Linked DNA regions of Homo sapiens. The protein of the gene in region 1 purifies or fractionates together with the protein of each later gene. This does not show direct contact. Each region holds a gene or a part of one and is shown on either strand. Other genes may lie near its edges.

Region 1 (15,387 bases):
AACTTTGATTTAATTTTGGCTTTTGGGAAGTCATGGGGAAAAGAAGTAAAGCTGAGGGTGGCGAAATACCTTTGCTAAACCCAGAGACACTGCACCTGAATCCTGCTCAGTGTTTTGTAGGCAACCAACTGCCTTCTGCCACTGGTATCCGGAAGGGGAAATGAGTTACCTTAAGTGGGCCAAAGTGGGGAAATACTAACAGTACAGCTAGAAACCAAGAGCTGTCGTGAAAGCCCTGAATGGGTTCCCACTGCTATTTCAGACAAAACTGATGCAGTTAAGCCTGAATTTCCTGGCAAGCACAAGGGTAGATTTTTCCAAAAGGCTTTTTAGACTGCAAATACACAGCCTTTCCATGTCTAATCACAAAAGCAAACTGCTGGACACATGCTCTCTGTTCCCAGCTGGTTGTGTATGTTTTCTTCACACTTCAACAGAAACGTGCCAAGGTGTGACATTTATGAATTTCGCCAACTGGGAACTGTGCACACAAATCGTTCTTGCTTGTGGTGTGGGAAAATGATGAATGGGGGCTGTTCTGCCTGGGGAGGAGGGCTGCTGTCACTCTGGCATGCCTACAGCCTTATTTATTACACACCAAAGTATAAAACCACTCCGCCGCTGCAGCTCTCAGCTCCAGTCCTGGCATCTGCCCGAGGAGACCACGCTCCTGGAGCTCTGCTGTCTTCTCAGGGAGACTCTGAGGCTCTGTTGAGAATCATGCTTTGGAGGCAGCTCATCTATTGGCAACTGCTGGCTTTGTTTTTCCTCCCTTTTTGCCTGTGTCAAGATGAATACATGGAGGTGAGCGGAAGAACTAATAAAGTGGTGGCAAGAATAGTGCAAAGCCACCAGCAGACTGGCCGTAGCGGCTCCAGGAGGGAGAAAGTGAGAGAGCGGAGCCATCCTAAAACTGGGACTGTGGATAATAACACTTCTACAGACCTAAAATCCCTGAGACCAGATGAGCTACCGCACCCCGAGGTAGATGACCTAGCCCAGATCACCACATTCTGGGGCCAGGTACTCAGAATTCTCTTCTAAGGATTTTTGTGAAAGCTTAATGAGTGTTGTTGTTGTTGTTTTGTTGTTGTTCTTTTTTTGGCTAAGATTCTTAGAATCAATGAATGCTTTCGAGAAGTTCGCTAAGCTGCTTGTGAATCTCTTTCTGGATTGCTCTTGGGTACAAGAGAGACTGTCGGTCTCTGTTAGAAAATCAGCAGAGGCAGCAATGATGTGATGGGATAGTGGCCGTAGCATCACCCCATCAGAAAGGGGAACCTGGCCAGCCAGCTTCCTGCTATGCTGGGACTTGATTTCCTTCTTGCTCTGTTGGTCCGGAAAGGAGTGCTGACCCATGCAGACAGATCGGTCACTGTAGACAATCATTTGTTGTTCTTAAGAGAATTGGGCTTTCTTCATCCCTTCCGGCAGGGAGAAGCTGCCCTTTGAGTTTGTCAAAAGCAATCAAAGTTTTTTTACTTTGATTTGTGAGTATACTGTGACATTTCATGGCAGTCTTGTTTATTTGATTTATAGCATTCTAGATTGTTAAGCCTCTCTGTTCAGCCTGTTTTAAAAAGAATTAAAGAGTTAAATAAAAAATAAACTGTTTGAAATGCATACCTTATAGCATGATTTGATGCCTGATAATCACAGAGGACTTGATCTATTTCTCAGGTTATAAATTCAGCTCTAAGGAAATATCTTTAACTCTTGGTAGTATGAGAGTGAGTTAAGATTTCAGTATAGTGAATTGCAAATTGGTGAAACTCAATGTAATTTAAAATATTAAGTACAGGAAGAGACATATTTTGAATTACCCTCTAGACATCTAGTATGCTGAAAACTGTCAGAGGGGGCAAGAAGAGTTACTTTGAGTTATATGATATTTGAACATACAGGTTTTTACTACAAGATTTGATTACTTTAATGCATTAAATAGGACCTGAAGAATTTCTTGTAATTGAAATCTAAATCCTTCCTACCATGGATTCAGAAGTTTGGGTTGGTTGTTTGGTTATATGGTCAGACCAAGATCACACACAGAATCAATTGCAGATTTGAAACTAACCCAGAACTTCTAACTTGACCACACAAGGCAGTTGCCCAAACCATTCTGTGGGGGATGCATCCAGAGAAAATTGCTTCTTTAAGGAGCCACGGAAGAAATGATAATCTCTAAATATGATCCTATCTTTTGAAAACCACTTTTAGAGATTGTCTATTCATCTGATAATCTTTTGGCTAAAGGGTAATGATTAGCACTAATTTGTGTGTGGGTTTTTGTTTGTTTTTGTTTTGTGGTGAAGATATTTTCACTTGTGTCCAAGACTTGATCTGGACTTTCCATTTCACACATGGTATCCTTCTTGGCCAACAGATGGTATCTTTCCTGGCCATGACAGTGTGATTCCCCCAGAGGAAGCAGAAGGAAGTTAAAGGTTGTCTTTGGTCATTATGTCCTGACAACCAACACCCAGCAGGCCACTGAAATTCAAATCACATTTCTCCTTCACTCTACCTTCTAGGTTCCTGAAGTATTTTCAAACAAACCACCAACAGGAGATATTGAGGATATTTAGAGTTACTGACATTCTGGAAGTTTTCACTACAACTCCTCTACCAACGGCTATGGAAACCACAGTTTGCATTTAGGATTGTGCTATGTTCTTCCTTCTTTCCCTACTTCCCCTGTCCCTCTTCTTTGATCGTAATTCAATTTTCCTCTTATTCATTCAGTTCCCGTGTATTTCTTGTGCTTCTACTTTGTACCAAACTTTAAAAGGGGGGCCAGGGATATATAAAGATAAATATGCCTGAGCTCCCATGTCCAAACCATCCTGAAGGGCTGTAGTAGAGATAAATTTTTGTTAATTAAATTAAGTTTAATTAAATGCCATGTGTTAAATAAAGTCAGTACATGAAAGGCAATTGGGCAAAAGTGTCAAAGTACTGATAGTTTTTGAGCTGGATCTTAAAAGATGGTATTAAAAGAATGACTATCCACAGCAAATTAAAAAAAAAAAAGTGCTGCAACAGAGACTGGAAAGCCTGTGAGGAGTTGGCTGTGGCTGAAGCTCCTGGGTTGGGGATGCAGGGGTGGGGGTTGGGGGGACGACGGGACATTACACGACTTTAGTGCCAAGAAGGATTCTGCTAGCTGGTTTAGGAGCTTAGATTTTGCTTTGCTAGCTAGGTTTTGTTTGTTCATAGCAGGACAGTGAGGTAATCAGATATATGGTCTGGAAAGATGCTCCAGCTGTGGGTTCATGGTGGAGTACAATGGCCAGAGATCTGGGGTGGGCAGACCTGGGCTCTTTTTTCCTGGTATTTTCTTCTCTGTAGCCTCTTTTTCATTCACCTTTGTCAATCTCCCCTCCTTCTCCCGGATACCCATTTCTCCCTCCTCCCACTTCCCTTCCTCTTCTTTCTTTTCCCTTTTTTTGGGGCAGGAGGTTTAAAAAAAGGAGCTATGACTCTCCTTCCTAGAAGTCACTTACTAGTAGTAGAGCTCAGTTCTGCATCCCTACCCCTAGGCCTCCATCTGCAAAATTGATGGAGCATTTCTTAGAGACAAACTCTTTCTCGCATGCTGCAAATTTACCTGCCTTTTGCATACAAATTTGTCCTGCTTTTGGGAAAGGGGATGATAAACAAGGAGGTCATAAATAGCAACTACCTACATGTAATTTTCCCTTACCTAGGAGAAAACTTCTGAATTAACACATCCCTTCCAACTTGTTCTAAGAGTTCCAACAAAAGACTCAACAATGCAAAAGCATTGCTCCATTCAACTGAACTTTGAAAGACAAGGCCAGAGGAAGGAACGTGTAATGCAATGCTGCTGAAGGGTTCTCACGAGGTGCTCGACTAGTAGTAACCAGAAGTCTCTCACTGTTCTGGTGGCAGCTCTGTGCCCTCAAAGTGCCCTCAAGTAGCTTGGTCTTGCACTTCCAATCCTAGTTGGCTCTAGCATTGAGCAACTTCATCTCCTGGAGCTGAATTCTTGTGCCTAGATACTAAAAACAAAATGTTTCTAAATTATTATTTGAGGCTTTGGAAAATACTTTAGTATCTTTGCATTGTAGAGCTGGAAAAAAATGCGAGACGACTGTAGTGGAAAAGTGGGAAATCTTCTCTTGTTTCATCCTCTGAAGATTCTCTGAAAATTAACTGTCCAAAGGCAGATCAATAGGAGAAACACACATACCGCATGGGGATGATTTCCCAATAGCCCAATGTGGTATGCATGCTTACACACCCTTCCACGTAGGGTAGCAGGGAGTTGGGGAATGTAGAAGTAAATTACAAAGTTCCTCTGAGCCCTGAGGGAGGTGCTGTTACCAAAAGTGAATCCACACGGGTCTGCAACAACCTCAATTCTTGGCTCCTCAATTCCATTGAGGGTCATAAGGCGGAAGGAGAGACCAACGCAAGTTTTAGAGCAGGAATGAAAGTTTATTAAAAAGTTTTAGAGCAGGAACAAAAGGAAGGCAGGTATACTTGGAAAGGGCTAAATGGGCAACTTGAAAGACAAGTGCACGGTTTGACCTTTTGACTTGGGGTTTTTTTACGTTGGCATACTTCTGGGGTCTTGCGTTACTTCTCCCTTGATTCTTCCCTTGGGGTGGGTTGTCCACATGTGTAGTGGCCTGCCAGCACTTACTTGGGAGGTGAGCATGCATAGTATGTTTACTGGAGTTGTAACCATGCTCACTTGAGGTATTCTTCCCTTACCAGCCAAATGCTCCTAGGAGGTCATTTGCCAATTAAACTCTGCCATTTTGCCTCTTAATGCACATGCTTGAGCCCACTTGCGCAACTCCTGAGATCTTATTGGGAAGCTGCCGATAACCAGTTTCAGGTTTTTGCTATCTTTAGGAAGACTGCCTTTACCCGGCACTGGCTGCAACCAATTATTATTTTAGAGAAACAGTTAAAAGCCACTTGATCATCACCTGATGATCACCTGATATTCCCGGTCAGGTGGAGCCCTCCCCTACCCTGCTCATGTCTGAGTAGCTACCTACTGTAACAGTATCAAGAAGGGAAGGGAGAGAAATTTACTGTGAACAGAGGTTGTCTTAAAGCTTCCCAGATTATGGCTCCTAGCTTCCCTCAGGAAATAGAAAAAAAGCCTGTCTGAGCCTTGTGATGACTCCCAGTCTCTTCAGTTCTCCAGTGGTTAATCTTTCCTGGTTATTTGATGAGATTCCTAAGGAGGGGGTCTTAAGACAATTGCATTTCTTTTGGAAAGATGCTTTCTTAGTCAAATAAAGAAATTCCAGACAGAGTCCCTCCCGGCACTTCTGGAAAGAAGATCAGAGAGACTGGGAGGCAGGGAAAGGTCAGAGAGAGACCTTGGATCTGAGGCTTCTCTCTCTTTTTTTAATAAGAGATTTGCCACAAGTCAGTTTTCCCTGTGATAGCTCTTCCAATACGTCTTTCTTAAAACACCTAAGTTCAGAAGGATCATGAGGCCCCTCTCTCATGATCTGCATTCATACTGAAAATCAAGATCAAGCAAGCTTTTGTCCTGCTCTGCAGAGCCTTCCATCCTCCCTGTGCTCACCTTATCTTCGTGGCTTATTTCTGAAGCCTTCCATTTCCAAAGCACTCAACACGCTGAAGCACGTATTTTGAAGAGTCATTTTCTGTGCACCAACACCACCTCATCCAATCCTCTGATTTAATAGCCAAAAACAAAACAAACAAAAAAAGATGTCTGGAGAACAGCGACTTCTCTAAGGTCACACAGCACCATGATGGAAATTCTGGTTTCAGTCCAGTGGGTGTTTCAACATTCCTAAGCATCTCAGTATTTCCATTCCATTCCTATATCGATGGTTCCACTTGAGGATTTTCCCTCCTTCCCCTCCCTTCTCCATCCTTAAAATTCATCATTGGCAGAGCCCTGGATTTTCTGAGGTTTAAAAGGCTGAATTTCACATTGGCAAAACCATAACAGGAAATATGGAATCCTTCCTTCTCAGATTACAGTTTTGGATTAGAAGGTGGGGTGTGCCGTGGTGTCTTTGACTTTCCAAGTGTCCTGAAATCCCTCAGATAAAATCCCTGAGATGAAATCCCTCATCTCAAACCAATGGCTTTAGTTGACTTTTCTTCCCCTACCAATTTGACAGAAGGTTTTCATAGACTCTAGTTCTTGTCCAGGTTTGAGCCTGGTAGACTGAAGACAAGACTAGGAGTTAGCTCTAAGTTATAGCTCCTGATCAGGCAAGACTTGGGTTCTGAGAGGTTGCAGGAGAATGCTTGTGCTACAGATTCTGTTCTGTGTTTTCCCTGAATAGCTTGGTGGAAAATTTTAGGACAAAGCAGTGAGAGAGTGAGAACAAAATTCAAGCCCATTTTTTATTAAAGAAAAGAAAGTAAGGTCTAAGTGTTTAACTGTGTGAAGTTTGATCCAGTTCTCTGCTTAAATTTTTAGTGACAAATACAACTTGAATTTTAAATTCTTTTTTCCTCCCTCTGTGTCTCCTTTTTCTTTCTCTTCTTCCCTGGCCTCCTTTTTCTCTCCTTTGCTTCATTTTTTTCATGAATCTCTTAGCAACAACATGCTGTTTTCAAAAGACCGTTGAATTATAATTGATGTCTAGGAACATTTCCACAAGTATTTTGTATGACATAATTAATAGGCAAGTTGCCAGTTTAGATGGGAGTTCAAATTTCATAAGCAACTTTAACTCTTCTGTCAATCAACTTCCACTAGGTCTTTAGCTCTTTGACGGTAAACATACATTTTAGAAATTTATCTTTGTATAAATAAGCATTTCACTCAGTGTCATACTTGAGCATGTTTAGTACCCATTAAGTGCTTATTAAACATTGGTTCAAACAGTGAGATAATCATTTCACAATTTTTTTTTTTTGAGACTGTGTCTTGCTCTTGTCGCCCAGGCTGGAGTACAATGGTGCTATCTCAGCTCACTGCAACCTCCGCCTCCTGGGTTCAAGTGATTCTCCTGCCTCAGCCTCCCAAGTAGCTGGGATTACAGGCATGCACCAGCATGCCTGGCTAATTTTTGTATTTTTAGTAGAGATGGGATTTCACCATGCTGGCCAGGCTGGTCTCCAACTCCTGACCTCAGGTGATCCACCTGCCTCGGCCTCCAAAAGTGCTGGGATTACAGGCATCAGCCACCATGCTCAGCCCAATCATTTCACATTTTAAAGTGGAATGTGTGAAATAGAAATCATGTTAAATAGTTGATTTACTGATAAAGTTAAAGTTGTTTCAAGATGTAGATAATTAATAAAAATGTATTGGACTTATAGTTAATAGCAATGTATTATATTCTTGAAAATTGTTAGGAGTAGATTTTAAGTGCTCTCTCTACAAAAACAGTATATGAGACAACACATATGTTAATTAGCTCAATTTAGTATTTTACACTGTGTACTTATTTTATAACAACATGTTATACGTGATAAATATATATATAATTTCTAGTTGTCAGTTAAATAAGTAAATAAATGTATTGGACTAAAAAATACTTTATTTCCTTCGTTTTCTAAGACAATTTAAGTGTGCTATGGCTGTTTGAAAAACTAGTGTTACTATTCAGAATTTCTAAGAGATCTTAATCTAGCTCTTAACTCAGTATCATGGATATAGTAAGCATTTAAAAACAGTGCTTAAAGTGGATAATTCTTGTAATTTGAGGACCATCTACTCAATTTAGCTACATCTGGGGCTATGGCAGTTGGAAAAGAGAAAAGGCTTCCAAGTCCACTTCTGAAGGAGTTTCTTCCTTTGCTGTTACAGTAGCAGCAGGAAGGCACTTTCCAGAAATAGGACCCAACTTCCCACCCCCACCCACACGCTTTTCAAAGAGCATCTTCCTCTATTGACTTTCTTGTTGCCTTTTCCTTTGATCATCAACTGACCTTAGCTACTCCCTGACCCTTTGCCATTGATATCTCCACCCCATCCCATCTTTTGTGATCTTGCTGTGATTCGATTGGAATTAAGCTTACCTAAGGGCCAAGGCCAGTGGAAATTTAAAAATCCTAATTGCTCACAAGTACCTTTTTTTCTGAAGCTTCTCTTTCTGTCTTTTTAGTCTCCACAAACCGGAGGACTACCCCCAGACTGCAGTAAGTGTTGTCATGGAGACTACAGCTTTCGAGGCTACCAAGGCCCCCCTGGGCCACCGGGCCCTCCTGGCATTCCAGGTAAGGATGAGCAAGACATACTGTCAATCTAATTGCAGCCTGAGCTAAAGTAGGAGCAAAGGGCAAACCTTAATAATTTGGGATCACTTCTGTGTGATCCAAAGGATCCGCTAGACTCTTGGCACCCTGGAATACCAGGTTCATAGGCTGGGAGGCTCCTCAACAGCATTGAGTCCGAAACGACCAGGTCATAGTCTTCGTTCCAGTATATCTGCCACAGCATGCTTTATGAAGGGCAGAGTAGAGCCAAAAGCTTACTGCTCTGGGCTACAGCCATCTCAATGCCAGTCACTGAGCTGTGCATCCTTCTGTGTGACTCTAGGTCCAGCTAAGTGCTTCTTCCTCCAGTCTCAGGATCTCTCCATGTTCAGCCGTCTCTCAGTTGACTCTCATGCCACTCTTGACCTCATGGAAACATTTTTAGGCTCCAGTACCATGTAGTGGTATGGGGAATGCTCTGGAGCTACATGAGACCCCACTAGACCAGCAATTCAGTCATCTGTACTGTGCCAATGCCACCAGGCATAGGAGAGTGCCGCGGGCCTGCTGGTACCCTGGGTCAGTCCAGGAAAGGGTAGCCCAGGTCTCCTCAATATGGGGCTCCCAAGCCTATCTTGGGTTTTATTGTCTTCATCCTCAGGTTAATCCCTAGGGTAGGACCTCATCTCAGGGTCTGGCCAAAGTCCACTGGCTCTTCTGTGACTTACTCTCATTGATGTTAATATTTATCAAATGTGGTTCAATTTTTTTTCTACTTTTGAGTAGCTTCTTGCACAAAACCAAATTTACAGCAAGAAAATCTTATGTTAAACTTTAAACTACACTTACTGGCTTGGAATCTATGTCATTGGCCATCAAGGACAGCAGCCAGCAGGAGCAATGATGTAGGGGTAGGGCCTACTTCGACCCTTGTAAAATCTTCTCAGGTCTTAACTCTTGTGAGGTTACACAAAAGATTGGCCTTGGTTAAATGTTTTCTAACCAGGAAATGGCTTTGTCACTGAACACATTAATTTGTAAACACAGTCAAAGTTCATCCATTTGGTAGGGTTGTAAGCCTGGTATGATAACCAACCAAGGGTAGCATGCAAAATGAACAGCAAAAAGCCTGAAATTTAGCAAATATTAAAAATAAAGAAGAGGTGTAGAAATTGTCTCTTGTTGGCAAAGGGAAAAGTTAAAATTGTTTTCCAACTCTTGCTTTCAAAATCATTGCTGTAATTTGTTTAATGAATGAGTTTACCTTTTCCCCAGTTATAAAAGTGATGTGTTTTTTGTAGAAAACTTCAAAGAAACAGAAAAATATACAGAATGACATGAAAATTACTCATGTTCCACATTTAGAAAAGAACCTCTGTGAATATTTTTCTGTAACTTATTCTTGTCTTTTTTTCCCTATGGATATAATACATAAACACATATTTTTCCAAACAAAGATAGTATCATGTTATTTCTATTTACTCATAACTTTCTTTTGCCTGAAACAAAGTCTGGCTCTTTTGTCCAGGCTGGAGTGAAGTGGCATGATCCAGGCTCCCTGTAGCCTTGGCCTCTTAGGCTCAAGAGGTCATCCTGCCTCAGTCTCCCAAATAGCTGGGACTACAGGTGTGCACCACCACTCCTGGCTAATTTTTTAATTTCTATTTTTGTAAAGATGGGATCTCACCATATTGCTCAAGCTTGTCTCAAACTCTAGGGCTCAAGTGATCCTCCCACTGTGGCTTCGCAAAGTGTTGAGATTACAGTTGTGAGCCACTGTACCTGGCCACTTATAACTTTAAAATCTAAAAATATCATGAATATCACTATATCATTAAATGTTTTTCTTCAGCCTTCTTTTTTATGACTATATAACATAGTTTCTAGAATATGTCATGCCCTCCTAGTATTGGTGATTATATAGGTGGTTTCCAATCTTTGCTATTTTAAATGATAATGTGATAATCAGAATTGTACACAATTTTTCCTCCAAGCCTCGCTTCAAAGGATAAACAGGCTTTGGAGCTTTAGGGTATCTAAGGCTTCTTTCAGAGCCTATTGCCCTATTTAGATGATGATACCCCTTGGTTATATTTGGGATTATTCTGAATGGTCCCCTTTCATAATTGAGTTTGGATAGTATGTCTAGAAATGGATGGTAAGTATGAGTGACTGGGTTTTCTCATGTGATGATGTCTGGTTGTTTAAGGAAACCATGGAAACAATGGCAACAATGGAGCCACTGGTCATGAAGGAGCCAAAGGTGAGAAGGGCGACAAAGGTGACCTGGGGCCTCGAGGGGAGCGGGGGCAGCATGGCCCCAAAGGAGAGAAGGGCTACCCGGGGATTCCACCAGAACTTCAGGTAAACCATCCTCGGTACATCTCCTGGTGGCTTTCCAACCTGCCTGACCAAAAGGGGCCAGGAATCAGGATGTTCGAGCGCTTCCTCAAGTCTTCCCCAATCCTGAGTAAATCTGAGTCTCAGTTTGTTCATCTACATCACAGGATGTTTGCATAAGGCCCATACTGTCCAAAAGGAGGACTTAGATACTATTCTTAGGGAGGAGAGACATTTATGAAGGGTGAAATCTAAGTCCCTCATAGAACCAAATCCAAGGCAACCCTAAATATAAACTTATCTCCTATTTTCCCAAATAAGATGTTTTAAGAATGTAATAAGATGTAATAAGGGTTTGGGCCAACTTGAATGTATAAACATTTAAGTATATAAATGGAATGATGAAATGTCTAGTTATAATATTGTATTTATTAACATTGTTATATTTACATATACTAATCCATACATAAATATTGATATATATTGTTTTCTCTCAACTCAGATTTTGTGGTATAATTTTTGTTTATTTTTTGAAACAGAGTCTTGCTCTGTTGTCCAGGCTGGAGTACAGTGGCACGATCTTGGCTCACTGCAACCTCTTCCTCGTGGGTTTGAGCAATTCTCCTGCCTCAGCCTCCCTATAGCTGGAATTACAGGCATGCATCACCACACCTGGCTAATTTTTGTATTTCTAATACAGACGGGTTTTTGCCATGGTGGCCAGGCTGGTCTCAAATTCCTGGCCTGAAGTGATCTGCCTGCCTCGGCCTCCCAAAAAAGTGCTGGGATTACAGGCTTGAGCCACCACACTTGACCTTGTGGTATAATTTTTACTTGAGCTTTTCTTGTCAGAATCTTCTTTATCAATGGAGAATTTCAGTTTTGAGCCATCCACTCAGTGTTCCAGACCAGATTACATTCATTTCAGCATAAAGTTTAAAAAATCAATTTATGAGGTTAAAACTGTACATTTTTTTCCAGGCTCAAGTACCCATTTACCTATTCTTTCTCTCTCTTTTAAATGATCATTAAAGTTCTTATTGCCAACACGATCTTAAACTTGTAAATGTGAGGTTAGGTCACAAGGAAAATTACTAACTTTGGGTTATTTCTGGAAGGTGGAGGAGGGCTAATATTTTGAAATGGATCCCCTCTGGGGGACTTCTATCAGCATTGAAAACTAGCATTTTTTAAAAATTAAGTTTCTTTCTGACTAGTGTCTTCCCAAAAAAAGTAACTTGTGGATAAAAATAAAGTAACTGAGATAAAGTACTGCAACATGAGAGATTTTTGAAGAACTAGACTATAAAGCGATTCTTGCCTGAAAGATCAATTAGGGGGAAACTGTCTTTCATTTGTGCGTGTATGGTGGTGGTTTGACCCTGTATAAGTTCCATCATTTTTCTGGGCCTTGGTTTCTCAAGTTTAAAATAGCTTGAATAGTTAGTGTGTTACTCTCATTTGTGGGTTTTGCAACTTTTAAATGAAAGCCGTTTTGTTTTGTTTTGTGTGTGTGTGCACAGGCTGGAGTGCAGTGGTGTGATCTTGGCTCACTGCAGCCTCCACCAAGGTTCAAGCGATTCTCTTGCCTCAGCCTCTGGAGTAGCTGGGATTACAGGTGCGTGACACCATGCCCGGCTAATTTTTTTGTATTTTTAGTAGAGACGGCATTTCTCTATGTTGGCCAGGCTGATCTCAAACTCCTGGCCTCCAGTGATCGGCCTGCCTCGGCCTCCCAAAGTGCTGGGATTACAGGTGTGAGCCACTGTGCCTAGCCAAATGCTGTTTAATAATTTCAGCAACCTGGGATCCATGTGCCAATATAAATTTACAAACAAAAAGGCTAGAGATGCCACTCAGCCAGGTTAAGGTATTTAATAAGACAGAAGATAAACATCTCAAAGCTAGACACTCTAACCCATAACCTATGAATGGTAAACCACGGAGAAGGGGCCCTAGAGTAGCCAGTTTGATAGAGAACATTCTGGGCAATTATTAAATTTGTCCCATCAGCTATTTTACCCTAAAATCACAATACAATCATTTGGGTCTTACACAGATTGTGAAGGAGGGAACTTCACATTCTTTGAAGGTCCCAGCAAATTAAAGAATTTATTAATCTAACTTACACTCAGTTTCAATGACTCATTTGGACGAAGGATTAACTTTGACTTTCACAGCTCATTCTTCAATGGTGGTTTTAAGCAAAAGCTTTTCTTTTCTTTTCTTTTTTTTTAACTTTTATTCTAAGTTCAGGGGTACATGTGCAGGTTTTTTACATAGTTAAACTTGTGTCGTGGGGATTTGTTGTACAGATTATTTTATCACCAGATATTAAGCCTAGTACCCATTGGTTATTTTTCCTGATTCTCTCCCTCCTCCCACCTTCCATCCTCCCATAGGCCCCAGTGTGTGTTGTTCCCCTCTATATGTCCATGTGTTCTTATCATTTAGCTCCCACATATACATGAGAACATGCAGTGTTTGGTTTTCTGTTCCTGCATTAGTTTGCTAAGGATAATGGCCTCCCGTTCCATCCATGTTCCTGCAAGGGACATGATGTCATTCTTTTTTATGGCTGCACAGTATTCCATGGTGTATATGTAGCACACTTTCTTTATCCAGTCTATCATCAATGGGAATTTAGATTGATTCCATGTCTTTGCTATTGTGAATAGTGACAAAAGTTTTCTTGACAGGCGGAATTGTCTCAAGGCTTTTAAAATTATTGTTAACATTTTGTATTTTGAACTTCAACCCTGTCTTTGGATATTAGTAGTATAGAGGTGGCAACAATAGTAGTAGTGGTGGCAAGAGGAGGAAGAGTACTACCCCATTCTCCACTTAGGGGATATAGAAATTTGAGGCCCAATTACTAATTACTCAATTGCCAAGTGACAGAATTAAGAGAGGTGGACCTTAATCTCATATCTTTGGACCCAAATAGACAGCCTTATTCCCAAACTCATAGAGCCTCTTGGTTGCCACCGTGAGCAGGTTTCTCAAGTTAATTCTCTTTGCTGATCTTTTACTGATTAAGCAGAGGCTTTCAAAGTCCCTTAAAAGATTACACATAAAGTATTTGTAACCATTCCCAGAAATGGGTGTTGACCATTAAATGACTTCTTGGATTCTCCCATCTCTAAACTTTACAGTTCCAAGATGACATTTTTTCATCCAAAATCATGCTGAGAAATTTTTGCTGTTCTAATATTCAAAAAGATTGCTAATTTTAGTAAACCATTTTTCTATATTTTAGATAACTGCAAACACTCCTTTTTACCTTTTCAAGGTTATTTACGTAATATCTTTTCACTGTTAAAAAAAATTAGAAAAGTTCTGGGCCAAAAATAATAAAACATGCCAAGAGATGATTACTGTTAACATACAGTTATGTAACTTTTCAGATTTATGCATACTTATATACATGTTACTTTTAAATATGATGGGAACATATATACATATTATTACTTTATTTCATGAATGACAATCTATCCTAAATGTCTGTTCATATAAATAAATACAATCCTATAGCTTTAAAATTAGTATCTTTTTTCTGAATATAAAATTAATACATGCTAACTTGAAAATTATAAGTGTAATGAAGAAAGGAAAACTTTCCCATGAAACTTCTACCAAGAAAGACCTGCTATTAATAATTTCAAGAATATTCTTGCAGATATTTTTCTGAATTGCCCACACAATGACTCCATCCACACAGACACAGTTAATAAAGGCTGGTATCAGATAATAATGATCTTGTGTTGTCTACTTTTTGGGTAAACAGTGTATTGAAGATATTTTCTCCTTTTATACAGATGCACATTTAGATCAGCATCAAGAATTCTCAAAGTGTATTCAAAGAATTAATTTCATTAGAAATTAATAGGCTAGGCACCATGGCTCACGCCTATAATCCCAGCACTTTGGGAGGCCGAGGAAGGTGGATCTCTTGAGCCTAGGAGTTTGAGACCAGCCTAGGCAACATAGTGAGACCTCGTCTCTATAAAGAAAAAAAAAAAAAGAAATTAATAGGTATCTTTTCGGGAAAAAATAATGCAGGGTTACCAAAATTAAAATGTTTGGCTATAGGGTTTCTCAGGTCCTTGAATTTGCTAATGTGCATTTCTCGGCTATAAGTGGAAAATTTCATATAAAATTTTCTGGTATTATTTGATAACAGAATTTTAGTATTTCAAAAATCATTTGAAAGACAAATAATCTTTGAAACCTATGTTCAGAACTGTTGATAGACATTGTCAATCTAATGGCTGCATAGCATTCAAATGTTGGAATTACCATAATTTATTTGTTTCTCTCTCCATAGATTGATGTTTATTCCCAATCTTGCTGTTATGTATAATGTTTAACAAACTAATCTGCATAAAAACTTGACTTCTTTAAGATAAATTGCCTATTTATTGACCAATAATTCTTTCCTTAGATTGCATTCATGGCTTCTCTGGCAACCCACTTCAGCAATCAGAACAGTGGGATTATCTTCAGCAGTGTTGAGACCAACATTGGAAACTTCTTTGATGTCATGACTGGTAGATTTGGGGCCCCAGTATCAGGTGAGATGGAAACATAGGATGAAGATTGAGTTAATCAATGTAATAATAAAGACAATTAAGGAAGGAAGGAAAGAAGAGAGGGAGGGACGGAGAAAGGGAGGGAGAGAAAGAAGGAGGAAGGGAGTAGGAAATAAAGAATGACATTAAGGTAGTTATTTTTTTTCTGATTCACGTTAAACCAAACAGCTCATTTAGATTTCTGTTGGATTTCAAAGTAAACGAATTAGAATCTGAAAAGACAAAAATAGTTTTTAAAATATGGCCATAGTCATTAATATTATTAACTCTGATTTAG
Region 2 (15,387 bases), on another chromosome or scaffold:
CTATCCTGAGCATCATTTCCATCCCACAGATGAGGAAATGGCCAAAAAGATGATTATTGTGAGTTAGCACCCCAGCTGGATTGGAATCCATTTCTGATCTGTAGTCTCGGGTGTTCCCCGGGGGTGCCTGCAGCGGGAGAAACTCCTAGGAGAGGCATCAACTGACAGGAGTTAACAAAGGAGGAGCAGATGGGACTGGGGCTTGAGTGGCGTTCAGGAGAGCCAGTTTTAAGACCACCTGGATCAGCCTCCCTGTAAGCCAGTTATCAGTATCCAAGTGCTTTAACACAGGCTTCTCAGAAGAAATCATTTTTATTCCTACCATTATTTCATACCAAAGCATCATTATGTGCTACAGTTCCAATTTCTTACACAAGAATGAAAAGGGTTACCAATGCAGCAAGTTAAAAAAAAAAAAAAAGAAGAAGAAGACTGAATGATTTAAGCTGTTTCTGAATTGTTCCTGCCATAAAAAAAAAAAAAAAAAATCAAGGCACCAGTTTTGAAATGGGAGAAGCATTCTAAATGAGACTGTTAGCTTGCCCTTTGACATCGATTTCTGATCCTCATTTATTCAGTATCTAACATCCAAGTCTGCAGAAATATGTTATCTGAGAGTTTGCAGTATGACCAGCTGAATAATCAGTATATGAGGTTTCACAGGGGAGACAGACATGGGTTAGAAGTGCCAGCTTTATGTATCAGGCTGTGTGTGTGTGTGGTGAGACAGAGTGCAAGAGTGAGAGATTAAAACATTAAATTTTACTGAGAAAACAAGAAATGAGACACATTATCCCCCAGCAGCTTGGAAGTGGATGCAGTTTGGTGAGATCTGACTGCCTCGGTCTGACTCCCAGGCCACTTACTACCTTAGGCAAGTTGCTTCCCTTAGCTCTTTGCCTTATCTGAAAGATAGAGATTAATGAATAGTTCCTACTTCTTGAGGTTCATGCTGTATTAAACTACACAGCACACGTAGGGAAAGTGCGGTTCACTTTGGTGCATGATACAAGAGTTAGTTGCTGTTATTCCTGGGAAGCTTCTGGCCTAAGGGAAGTCATGTCTTCAAAGAAGCCCTCCAACCTCCTCCCGGGAGGAGCCAAATGGTCCAGACGTGAAACTCTTAGAGGTGGGGCTTCCACGTGTGGAACGGCACCCTGCGAAAAGCTAAGCCTGCTTGCTGCTCTGGGGAGAGACTGACTCACGGAGCTGGAGGGCGTCCAGGGCTCCTGCAGCTTGTTCCACGGCTGGGGTCCAAAAAGGCTCACAGAGACGGGGATGTGGGCCCGGCGCAGCCTCCCTGGCCAGCCTGCAGGCTTTGCAGTGGGCACTCTCGCTGGACGGGCTGTGACAGGAGAGGCTGGCTGATGTCAAGCAGCCCTGGGCCGGAGTGTCCCTCTCAGGGCCTGAGAGATCGGCCACCACACAGAGCTGGCAGCGATTCCCATGAGTCCCCACCTCCTTGGGTGGATTTTTCTCACCAGAAACTCTGCTCCCTGCTCCTGGGTACCCCCTTCTGTGTCTGTCCACAGTCCCTGTGTCTTTCCTACAGGAAGGGGTTCTCGACTCTGGTTCCAGAGGCCCTGTCCAGGGACAATGGAGATGCTTGATTGTGAGTTATTGCTCTTCCCCAAGCATTGGGGGCACTGGACATTTCACTTGTTCCTGTGCAAGCGGTTCAACTCAACACCAACTCAATCTCTCCCATAGTTGCAGACTTAAAAGGATAAAACTCTAAGGACAAGGCTGTCACCACTTCCATTTGAAGCCTCCCTCCTACCACACTATTTTCCCCATTGGTTCCCTCTCCTCTTTCTTGGCCTGTGCACTGGCATCACTGTCTCCAGCGATGGGCTTGCATTAGTCTCTTCTCCCCACTCCTTGCACTTCTCTCCCAGACTGTGCTCTGAGCACCAGGACTTTGCTCCGTGTGTGGTGCGCTAGAAGCTGCCTCTTTCCTCTCCCCTCGGATTCTCAACAGGCTTGCACCACTCTGTCCCTTGCACTCAACTCTGCTCATGGTTTCCTCCCCTGAGCTAGGCCTGAGCAACAATATCATCCCCTTCAAGTCTTCACAATTTATGCTAGCAATTTTTAAAAGCAGTTAAAGCCCTTCAGGCCACACCATCAAAATGCCTGGACAACTGAACTCCTGTCTGGGGGTCTGTTCCAAACTTCTCATTTCCTTTTGGGAGAAGAAACTGTCGCTGATTAATTTCCAAGCATCTAAGAACAGAGAGAGAGAGAGAGCTGCCCACTCCACTTTGAAAATCAAATTCCCCCACTAGTAAGAGCCCAGACATCCACCCAGCCACCCGTGGAATAGGAAACCCCCATCAAAGCCTTGCCAGGTCCATGGGGGCAGAGCTAGTGCTCTGTGGGCCCTAGGATTGCTCAGACATGGTAAGTTTACTAAAGCACCTGTTCCAGAGAAGCCAGGCTGGAGAATTACAGGGACGGGCATAAAAACAAACTCCATAAATTAAAAATAAAGAGAAGGCAATCCTCAGAGACGATTCTTCATTCTTTCCACTCTTTTTGAGGGCAGATGGGAGGATGGATGGCTTTGGATTGGAAGCAACACAGCTGGTGTCACAGAGGCTACTGAACAAAGATCAGCTCACATATTAGCACATCCATGGGTGGAAGCAAAATACTAGGGCATTTCAGTAATTCACAGAGCAGAAAGGAAGCCACTCTTCTGCCCAGCAACAAAGTTTAATGGAGCCATTCCACCACTTACCTTGGAACCCCATTCAGTGTCTGACAATTCTGTCAATGAATTCTTCCTGAAAGCTCACCTAAACTCCTCTTGCTCTGTCCCTGGGATAAGAGGGAGCACCATTTTTCACGTAATCTTTTGTAATATAATGTACTAAAATCTACCATCATTACTTCTCTCTTCTCCAAGCAGGTACAAAAGGACATTGTCCACACTTTGGTTCTTGTCTCAGCTGCCCTACACTGACTTAGGGCCGCGGGCTCACAGGGAAGCCCCTCATATGCCCCTCCTCTCCTGCTGGCCTTCCTCCCTCAGCTGCATTTAATTGAAGGACAGCCGGTTCCCCTGAAATAATAAACATCACCACAAAACATCATGTGGGCGTGACATTTCCAAAGCTGTCTACTCTTAGTTTTCAGAACGTGTCACCCCTTACATGCTATTTTCTTCTCATATAGCCAGCCTCATTTTAACTTTACTTTGTCATTATTTAACTCCTTAGTGAATTAACTTCTGTCAGGGAGATCACTTCTGGATCATTTCTTTCCTCTGTTTAGTTGGCAAGAATGTCTCAAAAGCACGTTATAGAAAGCCTCCTGGGAAGACACATCTTTATTTTATAGTTACTAGCGGGAGGGATTTGCTCCAATCATAAGGGAAAAACCATAAGATTCCCAAATTTGTAGCTGAGTGGGAATATTTCTTGTTTTGGACATCAACATTTTACTGGAAGCCTCTGTATTATCTGTCAAGATGGTAACCAAACTTAGAATTCTCCCAGAAATGCTGGGCTCTGTGCTTATGATGAGACAGCCCTGAGAAGGAGACAGCCCTGAGAGGGAGGCAGCCAACTTGCCTTGCCAGCATGATTGTGTCTCAGTCTTGTTTGTTATCAACCCCAACACATGCCTAACTCTTCTGCCCTACTGAGTTCCCATGAATCCCACTTTGGCCCTTTCATAGTCCTGTCAGGCAATGCCTGGACAGCATCTCCACCCACTGTGCCCAGCCCTCCTCCCTCTTCTGAACTCCAATTCATCCTCCAAAACCCAACCCAAATGTCACCTTCTCAGCAGAGCTGCCCTGACAGTCCTCCTCTGCCCATTTTGTTCATCTCTGAAATAAAACCATCCTGTTTGGCAGCCACCTGCTTTATGTTGCTCCTCCATTGGACTGCGGGCCCCACACAGCAGTAGGGACCTTACCTACTTCTCTGAGCATCTCAGTGCCCAGCACAAAGCCTGCAGCAAGGCAGTGTTCACAGCCTGGTTTTTGAGATTAGGGGTAAGCTTGATCTAAAAATTCAAGCAGTCACTGAGATCAACAAGGATTTTCTTTTTGTTGCTGCTGTTATTTTTCCCCAGGAAAAAGCTCTTTGGCCTTGGACTGGTATCACAGTATCTCAGTATCTTTTGATGAACGGATAGGCTGACCTGTAGCACAAAATGCAAGATGGACACCTCCACTCCCTCCCAGTGGGGGCTCTCTTCCATCTTTCTGTACCTTGGAATCCTTTTCAGCTTACATAACAGTACCCATCAGTTTAAAACAACCCTCACTGCACAGTAAGGGCAGCAACCACCCTCCCCTCATTTGCCATGGGGATCACACAGCAGTGATGGTTCCCCCTGACTCTGACATCCTTGGTCAAGGGCAGACCTGGTAATCTCTGCAGCGTTGGCCATTGATCAGTGCCTGCGGAAGCAATTGACAATCATATCTTTGAGCTAAGTTTTTTTTTAATTTTTCACAAAGAGCTCCAGAAGGCAAATAGTTTATCACTTCCCCACTCTGAAATAGCACGCAAGACAGATGATGCAGGGGAACGGGTGTCCACTCTTTCTTGTTCTCAGAGCTCCTGCAGCAGGCCTGAATGAACCGCAAGCGGGGCCCATGCAGCGTGTCCTCTGCAAAGTGCAGGTGTTCAGTCCACACACAGCAGCACCAGCACTGCTGATGTCACGGTTGTCTGTCCAGAAGATCCCACGTTAGATCCCAAGAGAAATCCAGACAGGGTTTAGCCTCCAGAGGCAGAGAGCGGGTGCCAGGCCCAGATGCAAAGGCCTCTATACTGACGCCCTCACATGACACTGCAAAGGTCAAATGTCAAAGGTCAAATGTCTTGGCTTAGGACTATAAGGGAGAGATAGGACAAATAATGAGGTCAAGGAACCTCTGGATTGCTGAAGAGATGACTTTAAAAAAAAAGTCACATCTGCGGCTCACAGTGTTCACCAGAAAAGAACACTGCTTGGGATTCTAGACCTGAGCAGGGAGAAACAAACCGGGCTAAAGGAGACAGAACTTTCTTCACAGTAGAACAGTCCTAGTCTAAAATGCTAGAATTTAAGTCCAAAGTCTTTTAAGAATGAGAGTTCTTAAATCTGTCAGACCAGCTGACAGGGGAACAGGAAAAAAAAAATTCTCTATTAAACAAAACACCACAAAAATCAACCCAAACTTCCTTCAACCCCAGCACCCCAGCCACCTCCCACCCCATTAAAAAAGTCATTAAAGTCATGCACACATGCACACACTCAAATATGAAAACAAAAACCAGATACCCAAGGAAATCTTAGGAATCACCTAAGGAATTTTCACTCGCTCCCCAGATGCTCTTTCTGTTTTTCTGGGGGTGGGTGGGAAAGGAAGTCACACTGACAGCTAAGTCTAAGCGGCACAATTTAGAGTTGGGTGAGTTCCCTTTCCTCCAGCGGCCTAGCTTGCTGGTCAGTGTAGAAGGGTACCCACAGTGAGTCGGGAAGGAAGGCCGAGGCTGGCGTCTGGTGGAAGGCAAGCTGCCTCTTGTCCTAAAGTGGGGACCCGCCCCTCACCTGGGGAGATGAGGCTGCCTTGACTACCTATTTGGTGATGAGACAGCTTGGTGATCACTTTCTCTAGACTCTGAGCCATGCTGTTCAACCTTAATGTGGCAATCAGTATCACATGGGCAGTGAACTGAAGAATTAGGTGTCTGGCTTAAAGTGTATCTTACACTCGTACACTAAGCTTGTGTATGTAGCACCACCCGCCTGTGGACTCTGCTCTGAAGGGCCCTCCCCATGAGTTTAAGTGTGAAGCTCAGGGTTTGGGGTGTGCACGGCCCCCCATATGGCTGCATGGTGCATGGACAGTGATGAGGAACGGTGCTGGTATGGGATGCCTGGGAGGGTTTTTCTGGAGACAAAAATTTACAGATTGAGGGCATGAGAACATAAACTTGAGGGAAACCACCATGATCTATACTAGGATGACAGATTGTGGAGTGGGAAGAAATCGTGTAGTCCAACTCTGCATTTTACATAAAATCAATCTGTGAAGAAAGCAGAAAGGACTCTTAGGGGATATCTTTTGAGAAAGGGTGTCCGCCTGGGATTCTAAGAGCTTCCCTGGTTGCTGGCCTAAATCAGGTGACCAGCCCTTTGTTTCTGACCAGGTTTCTCACCTGAGATAGAGAATCATTTGTTTCCAAATAGTTCAAATCCCCCCATCCACAGGCCTCCCCACAAGAGCCTGGCTGGGAAATTCAGGAGAATCAGATTGCCGAACCAATGTGTCCACACCCACCACTCCCCCGGGTGCCGTGGAAGTCTGCAACATCTGTTTCTCTGCCTTATCCTAAAGACAATATCTTCGCCCATTTTGTAAAATAAATAATTCAAAATATAATGAAAAAACTCTGGCAAGGATAGTTGCTGGCCTGAAAATGTGCTCTGTCTCTTAGCAGTGACTCACAGAACTCACACCTGCGGTGGGTTCCCAGGCTAAGGGGTGGAGCGGAGAGCGTGAAGCTCTGTAGCAGCGCGCAAACCCGGGACAGGGCAGGATGCACAGCCAGTCCTCACCCTTTATATATTACATTTATCTTTATAAATAGAGCATCCTGACTCGAGTGGCCATAATAAAAAAGCCAAACATTGAGTTTTTTCCCTCAAATACCTACACAAACTGTCAAATATCTACTAAATTATATCCACATGGCAAACTGGTCACCTCTATATGAGAACTCCAACTGCCATGATGGTCACAGGCCAAGTCTCAGTCGGACCCAAATACCCACCCCTACTGGATAACAGGGACTAAGATTTTTTTTTTTTAAAAAATCTACTTTTCAATAAGACTTGTGACAGAATCCTTTAAATAAAAAGCCAAATAAATATGATTTTAAGTGATTCCTGTCCCCCAAAAGTTGCACACACAAGTTTTCAATGTCATATAAAACGGACAAACTAGACCAATAAGTGTGGTCTAGTTGGCCTGGCTGCCTTGACTACATATTTGCTGATGTGACAGCTCGGTGATCACTTTCTCTTGAACAAGACTCTGAGCCATGTTGTTCAACCTTAATGTGGGAATCAGTATCACATGAGTAGTGAACTGAAGAATTAGGTGTCTGGATTACAGTTTATCTTAACAGTTTCCAAAAAACCTGTCTTTCAGCCGTCTTGGGAAATTTGGGTTGAATTTCCTTATTTCCTTCCATGGTCAAAAATATGTTAATTTCGATCTATCACACTAGATCACTTTGGTTAGATGACTGTGACCACTAAGAACAAAACAAAACAGAAAACTGGAGCAAACAGATGAATAGCCCTTTAGAAAAACCAGAGGATGTTGAACTGATGTGGGCCACACTCCCAGGGAGCCTTCATAGCTCATCCCTTGAAGGCACAGTGTCCAGGGAGGTTGGCGGTGGCAGGGCCTCTGTGTTCTTGGCATTGCTGTAGATGCGGCTTTGCTTCCGGGACTTCCAGGCATGTGTCCTATCCCAGTCGGTGGCCACTGTCTCATTGTCCCAGATGGTGGAGGTCTCCGTGTCACTCAGGTACCCCGGCTGGCCTGTGTAGTGCGTAGGGTAGATGAGCAAGGGTTCTGCAGAGAAGGCTTTCAGGTCCCTGGATTCATAATACTCCTTGTACTCGGCTCTGAAAACAAGAAGGTGGCCGGACACATGAGGGGGCGGAAAGGAGACTTACGGAACAGGGACAAAGAGTGAAGGAGGCCTCCTGGTTACCTCATGAGTTCATTTCATTATTTCAATTGTGTCATTTGTGAAAAACTTTAGCCTACAAACACAAATATTTCTTTAAAAGCTTTCCAAAGACAAGCTCCCAAGCAAAAAGATCAGGACATTTCTGACGTATTTGAATAGACTAGTTTAAAAGATGAATTTCAGGTCTGACTCCAAAAGTTAAAAAGTAAGCCCTGTTAGACCATAATGATAAATAAATACGATCACTTCACCAAAAATGCCCTGCTTTGGGATTAATAAATGAGACACCTCACATCTGGACAGCAGTGATGGGGCATGTGGCACGTGGAGGCTTAGAGGCACGCAGGCTTGGCTTTGTGCTCTAGCTCCCTGCTCACCACTCCGGTTCCAACAGGTGTAAAGGAGACGGATGACTTGGCCTCCCTCTCAGGGCTCCTGTGCAGAGTACATGAGGTGACATCTGAATGTAGTAATTTCCCTTTTGTTTAGGGGATAATGGTTTGACCTCCATGTTTCTGCTAGGACACAGAGATAAAGTCAGTCTCTGACATGTTATATACAAGAGGGCACACAACTCCATTTTTACTGAGGACAAGAGACAAAATGAACTGGTGGCAGCACAGGAAATCTCAACAGCTAAAATGAGACCATCTAGTGACGAGATCACCCAGCAACTGAGAGAAGGGGCCAAGGTTAGAACGAATGCTGCTCCATCAATGAATTTAGGAATCATTCATTAATGATTTAGGAGCTGCTGTTATGTGTAGCATTTGGACTAGGCTCTAAGGACACAGAGGCATAAGACTGTTACTGCCCCAAAGGGTTTATAGTTTATTGGGGAGATTGACAGGTAAATCATTAATTGCCACACCTTTTGATAAGCGCTAGGTCAGGGTAAGCTCCTGGGCTATGGGAGCCCCAAGCATCACACTGCCCTTCTTCCATGGACATCATGCTCAGGTATCAGGTCCACACTCCCTGAACCTCTTACACACCCCTGCGATTGCAGGAATCACAATATATCATGATGATTTGTTCATGAGTCTGGGTTCCTGACCAGATTGTGAGCTATGCAAAAATGGGTATCTCTGCTTAGCCAACAGTACCCAATGACCTGAGCCAAAGGAACTGGAAATTTTGAGGTGCTTAGGAAGATGGCCTTCACCTTGAGGTGTATGAGGTTATGGAAATAAGAAGAGCAAAGACAAGGAGGGGACCAAGCACATTACATTCAGTTCAACTACAAACTGGATATTACAAGAATCTCTGGGCAGGACACTCACCATCTCTGCCTCACCTTCCCATCTGTACAAAGGGATAAATCACCTGAGTTAGGCTCTCTTAATCATAATTATGAGAAGATCATTTAGGAAAGCAGTACAACTTTAGAAAATATCAAGTACTACCAGAAATGGAGAGCATAATTCATGAAGAGGCTGTGCCCAAGGGAAGGCAGGCAGTTCAGGGAGACTCACACGGGATGCTTGTTGTACATGACTGGCAGAAACTCATCCACTGGCAGCATCTTCCCAAAAGGATTGGCTCCAACCAGCTTCTGTGCTCCTTCCAGAGAGATGACGTAGCCCAGGGTCCAGTAGGAATAGTCGGCTTCGACCAGGTTTGCCACATTGGGCACTGCTTTCTCTGGCTCCTTTACTTGCATCCTCTTCCTACCAATATAACTGTAAGGAAATGGCAGAGGAGAAAAATTCCACCTTGACTATTATGCCATGATAAGGATGAAGCACAGCTTTGGTTTACATAGATACCTCTGAAATCCTGGACTGACTCTGTCTGTCATTAAATGATGTATCACATCCAAAAGTGGATCCAATCGCCAGTCAGGACTGCCATCTGCCATCACTGGGGCCATTTTGCTAGCTCCATTTATCAACACCCCCACTATTCCTGCCTAGTGGACGGTTTTCAAGACGGAAAGTAAGATGTCGTAAGATTAAAAGATCTTTCAGATCATTTCTTAAAGATGGGATGGGGCTTCCAGCTGTGTTTACAGAGGTTGGAAAGGCACAAAAAAAGGCCAGATGGGAGAATCCTGAGGCTGCTGTCTTCAGGTCCCCAGAGTGTCAGCCTTGGATGCCTTCTGCACAGCACTCCGAGTGCTGGTGGGAAACACAGGACCAAATAAGCTGGGGGAAAGAGTCAGTCTGCAGTGAAGGTTCTGGGAACCCAAGAGTGGCCCTAAGGGGTTCCTTTTGGGGAGGATGAATGACAGCTCCTGACAGGCATTCTCCTGCCTCACACTCGTCCAGCTGTGGCCAGGCTTCCTCCCAGACATGCTGCTCTGAGAAAGGCCCCCCAGGCACCTTCCGTCCTCCGTGAACAACTTCTACAACACAGGATGCACCTTTGGCCACTCCCATCTTCCCTAGTCTACCCATGGATCTGTGCTCCATTACTTTTGTCCGGAACCTATTGATTTGGGCTTGACTGGAGCAACCTGAGGAGTTGCCTCCTTCTTGCCTGCCAGGTAAAGCAGTACTTCCTCTATTTTGCCCTAAAACAATCTCTTTCAACATTCAAGGGATTCCCCCTTGTGAAAGCATCCCAGGATTTGTAGAACAAGTCTATGTTCAATCTTCAGTTCTTCTGAGAACAACAAACATATATCCCCAGCCACTCTCTCTTCAGATTACGGAGTCTGAGCTTCTCTCGTGTCTCATCCAGTGGAAGGGAAACTCTTATCGAGCACTTGAGAGGAACTAGAGTGATAGAGGTGCTGAGTTAATGCTCTAACTTTAATTAATTTAATTTTAAATGTTGAAGCTGTGTGAAATATATATATTTTTTCCATGAAACAAGTTCATTGTTTTGGTAGGACGACAGTTTACTTTTTTTTTTTTTTTATGGAGCCTTGCTCTGTCGCCCAGGCTGGAGTGCAGTGGTGCAATCTGAGCTCACTGTAAGCTCCGCCTCCTGGGTTCATGCCAGTCTCCTGCCTCAGCCTCCTGAGTAGCTGGGACTACAGGAGCCCGCCACCATGCCCGGCTAATTTTTTGTATTTTTACTAGAGACGTGGTTTCACCGTGTTAGCCAGGATGGTCTCGATCTCCTGACCTCGTGATCCACCCGCCTCGGCCTCCCAAAGTGCTGGGATTACAGGCGTGAGCCACTGCGCCCAGCCCAGTTTACTTAAACAGCTGAAAATTTAGCTTCTGGATTGAGAGGTGTTCTAAGTGTAAAATACATACCAGATTTTGAAGAGTTGGTACAAAAAAAAAAAGAAGGTAAACTATGTCATTAATGGTTTTAAAATATTAATTACATACCAAAATGATGATACTGTTTGGATATTTTTGTTAAATAAAATGTATTAAAACTAATTTAGTCTAATTTATTTTTACCTTTTTAATGTGATTACTAGAAAACTGAAAATGACATATGTGGCTTGCATTATATTTCTATTGAACAACACTCCCTCAATGATTCCAATGACTTGTTCTATTCTTCCCTTTTATTATTTTCTTTTCCTGGAAAGATGTAATGTGGCAATCATGAACAGCTTATTACCTTTCATGTTTTAGGTTTAAGTAACATTTGTTTCTTTTTTGTTTTAGAAAATAACAGGTACAATTTAAAACTGTTACAGTTCTTTAAGACTATATAATAGATTTTAAGGGGATATTTTGACTTGATCAACCTGTGAAATTTAGAAAACATTTTTTTCCTGTATCCTTATCAAGACAACTGTTCTTCCTTCTTGCATCTGTCGGTACTTTGTCCTGAGAAATGCACCCACCGAACTACATGTGAACGGGAACGTATGCCAGCTCTAAACCTTAGATTCTCTGGGCTCAGTCTTCTGTGATTATGAGGCTTAAGTGAAGTTGCCTTTATACAAGTCACGTGGACATCAAGTAGCTTCCAGGCCTGTGAGGCCTTAACCACAGGCTGCGGAGCCATCCATTGAGAAAGGCTGAAGTGCAGCGACTTCTGGAGGATATAGGAAGAAACAGTGATCTCAAGGGACTGTGCAGAATGCCAAACCAAACCACATGACCACATGACTGAAATCTGACAGGGCATAGGTGTCTTATTACACAGTGACGCATTAGTTGAGCCATTGCTAGGTTTCTTCTGAGCTCAGAGTGGCCCATTTTCTGAGGGAACAAGTATTCCACCTGGGCCCACAGTTAAATACCGCCTGTGGGTGGGAGAAGCAGGGACAGCTCCTCTGCTGCAGCTGCTCCAAAGAAGCAGGCTCAGAGTTGATGAATTGCCTTTGACACACAGCTGGGAGCAAACACAATGCTTGGGAACTTTCTGCTTCATTGGAGAGAAATTGAAAGTGTCATTTGTTTTAAAAAGAAAATGAGAGAGAGAAAGGAGGAGGCAGAGGAGGAAGAAGAAAAAGGAAAGAGGAAGGGAGAGAGGGAGAGGAAAAATGAAAGGGAAGGGAAGGAAAAATGAAAGGGAAGGGAAGAAAAAAGCAGAAGCCACTCAATTCCCAGAGAGTAGACAAAGAACATTAACTAAATGTCAGCTCAGAGCCAGCACTCCCTTGGTGAGCCTGGTTTTCCTGCATCAGCCTCAGACCCTTCCCCAAATCTAGTTGTCCATGTTCTTCATGTTTGTGCAGCCCCATTTCCCAACAGAGGAGCTCCCTGGCTGACCCTCTAACCTCCCACCTTCTCGGAAGCTGCAGAGGCAACCTGCTGTCCCGGGAGCTGAGTCTTAAATATGACACAGGACTTTAGAGCTTGAATAAATGGCCTCTTCTCCAGCTTCACACCCACTCCATGTGCCACGTTAATTGAGGGTGGGATTTCTGCTGTGCTCCTAAGTAAGTGCTCAGTGCCACACCTTGGTTCTGTCTGAAGGTCCCTGATCTGCAGGCCGACTCCAGGTCTCAGACAATCTTCCACAGTTTCCCACCCTGAAGAGTAGAAGGATGCAAAATCCAGTGGCTAACCTCTACCCATTTTTATTTCTGAGAACATTTATGGAAAGAAAACTAGATAAGTGGAAGCTTAAGCTGTATCTCCTACTGGCTGTGGAGGTGGGGCTCTCTGCGCATTGGAAAGGACTGAGTGCCTCTCAGAGCCCTCTCGTAAGATCATCTTGTCACTCACATCAGTTCCCAGTCCAGCTGAGCCTGGTCAATGTTATCCATCAGCTTCATCAGCTTCTTCTTAAACTGATGCTCAAAACGCACATCGTCTTCAATTACAAGAGTCTTCTCTAGCTCTCGATCAATTACCTGCAAAAGTCATCAGTAGGAAGATACCCTATGAAAAGTTTGAAACCCAATTTTTATTAGATAAATAAGTATTAAAAAGTCACGAGTCTAGTAGCACAGATTCATAACTGGAATCTAAGCAAATGGCCATCAACAGTAGAATAGATAATAAACTTTGGAATATTCACAGCAGTGAGGATATATGATCACAATTAAACGCAACGTTATAGGTGAATCTCCTAAATGTCATGTTAGGAGAGTACACATACTGCATGATTCCATTCATATAAGGGAAAGTACAAACAAAGGTAAAGCTATTCAATGCCTTTAGAAGTCAGGATGGTGACTGCCCTTGGGGACTGATGACCAGAAGGCAGTACGGGGTGGGGGGGTGCTTGTGGGATGCTGGTTACCTGCTTCTGGATCTGTGTACTGATTAACATGGGTGTGTTGTTTGGTTTGTGAAATTTCCCTGAGCTGTATCTTTTGATCTATATCTTTTTATACCTATTTATCACATTTCACTTAAAGTTTAAAGAAAACAAAGGCAGGCATAGACTGGATCATTAAAAGAGAAAGTGTTCAAGGGGCCTTTCTTCAGGGACTTTCTTTTTGGTTGTGGAAACTGACTGTTTATCAGGAACCCCACACACCAATATCTGCTCCAGATATGTCTTGATCTGTAAGACAGGGGTTCCACTTCTGGCTCTGCCACTTCTTACCGGGTCAAGCTACTTAATAATTTCTTCTTCGGTAAAGGTGGTCTGTCCTTCCCAACCCACCTCACATGACTTCTGTGTGATTTCTTGTATAAAATCACTTAATAAGTGATGTCATAATAGGTATAATAGAAGGCATTCCTGCTAATGATGATAATGAATTAATAAGAGTGTGGCACACAGGACATGGGTGTCTCCCCCGTCACCACCCCAAGTGGCACCAAAGCTACTCCTCCTTGCCCCTTTGTTGCTGGTCTTGGGTCAGAGGGAGACACAAGGCAGGAGCAGCTCTCATGCACATTTCCAGAACAGTTGCGGGCTCACTTTACATCTGGCCCTAACTCACCTACGATAGCCTGCTTTCCTTTCTCCTCATCATAAAACTGCAATCTGAATAAAGCATTATTTACCTCTTTCCAGACTGAGTAGTGGCTGAGAAAGCAGCCGATTTCACCCCTTGTTAGAGGCCTGGAGGAATAGGGATCTCGATAGCCAGGCAGCATTTCAATATTCAGTGCCTTCAGCTGGCTTGTGTTGAGTGCCCTGCATCACATAAAACACGTCTGGAGATTAACAAGTCAAAGGTCCCCACCACAAAGGCCAGAGAAAGAGAGAGTTAGTTCTGCAAACACCCCTCCCCCACACAGACAAAGACAGAGAGGCTTCCCTTTATTCCTTAGAAGTTCCTCCAGGCTAATGTGTCACACTAGTATTATGAGGTCTGGGAAGACAAGAGGGTATCATATTTTTGTGTATCCCTCATAGTGCCCAACATAGTTCTAAGCATCATCAGTTTTTTGACAAGATTTAATAAGTACACTCCTATGGAAATTAGTTAAAGTACTGCAATAATCCAAGGAGTGTTTGATCAAGACCTACTGCTGAATCTCTGTTAACACAGTGAGCTTTGTGAAGTTCACAGCTGCCCTAATCCTAACCTGTTCACCCCAGCCCTACAAAAGCCTTGAAAACCAGTAGCCTCACAACTAAGAGAGCGGCAAACCCCACCAACCCAGAAGCCACTGGCAGGGACAAAATGGACTGAGACTCCCTTAAAGACCTGCCCCCAGAAAATAATCTCTATTCAACCTGTCTAGTAGCTCCTTGAAAAGCTACATTCTCAGAGCTTGTCTTGATTTGACCTGACTCAGAGTTCATTTTCTGTGAACAGCACTATCTGCAGGTCATTTGTCAAAACCCATGAGCAACAACTGTTTAACATTACAGCTGTTTGAGAAGCATTATCAGCTGATGCTAACAAGAAGCCCACCAAAAAACTTAAAAGGAAAAACCAAGGAATAAGAGGTCCATAGGGAGTTTGATTTGCTCCAAAATATCCCTGAGAATCTAGAAGGCCCCAGGCATATTCAGGGCTGTCCACACGCCCAGGAAAAACTTGAGAAGTCCCTAGTCTCTCACCTCTGGCTGACCTTAAGGATCTGGAAAAAAATGTAGTGAAGGCAAATGAATAAAACACTGCAATGAAGGAAGAATTTGGCATAGTAAGTTTTAAAAATTAATACAACCATGTGGTATCTATAAGAGGCAGCCTTTAGATTAAAAGACAAAAATAGGTTGAAAGTAAAAGAATAGAAAAAGATATACCATATAATCAGCAATGACAAGAGAGCTGGCAGAGCTATGCTAATATTGGGCAAAATAAATCTCAGACAAAATTCATGCTAGAGCCAAGGAAGGACATTTTTTAATGATAAAAAGGTTAATCTGGGCCGGGAGTGGTGGCTCACGCCTGTAA

What was found.
Region 2: the proteins of C1QTNF3 (region 1) and COLGALT2 purify together in Homo sapiens (affinity purification with mass spectrometry; 3 studies listed by BioGRID and IntAct, with this or other methods). This does not show direct contact.

Annotation. Positions count from the first base shown.
Region 1 is NC_000005.10:34,028,459-34,043,845, reverse strand, and holds the start of C1QTNF3 (complement C1q tumor necrosis factor-related protein 3 isoform b precursor), read left to right. Parts: upstream 1-632; 5' UTR 633-720; coding exon 721-1,023; intron 1,024-8,087; coding exon 8,088-8,199; intron 8,200-10,387; coding exon 10,388-10,542; intron 10,543-14,962; coding exon 14,963-15,092; intron 15,093-15,387.
Region 2 is NC_000001.11:183,931,391-183,946,777, forward strand, and holds the end of COLGALT2 (procollagen galactosyltransferase 2), read right to left. Parts: intron 14,175-15,387; coding exon 14,042-14,174; intron 12,934-14,041; coding exon 12,806-12,933; intron 9,398-12,805; coding exon 9,191-9,397; intron 7,648-9,190; coding exon 7,371-7,647; 3' UTR 4,444-7,370; downstream 1-4,443. UniProt on the Homo sapiens protein: Beta-galactosyltransferase that transfers beta-galactose to hydroxylysine residues of collagen.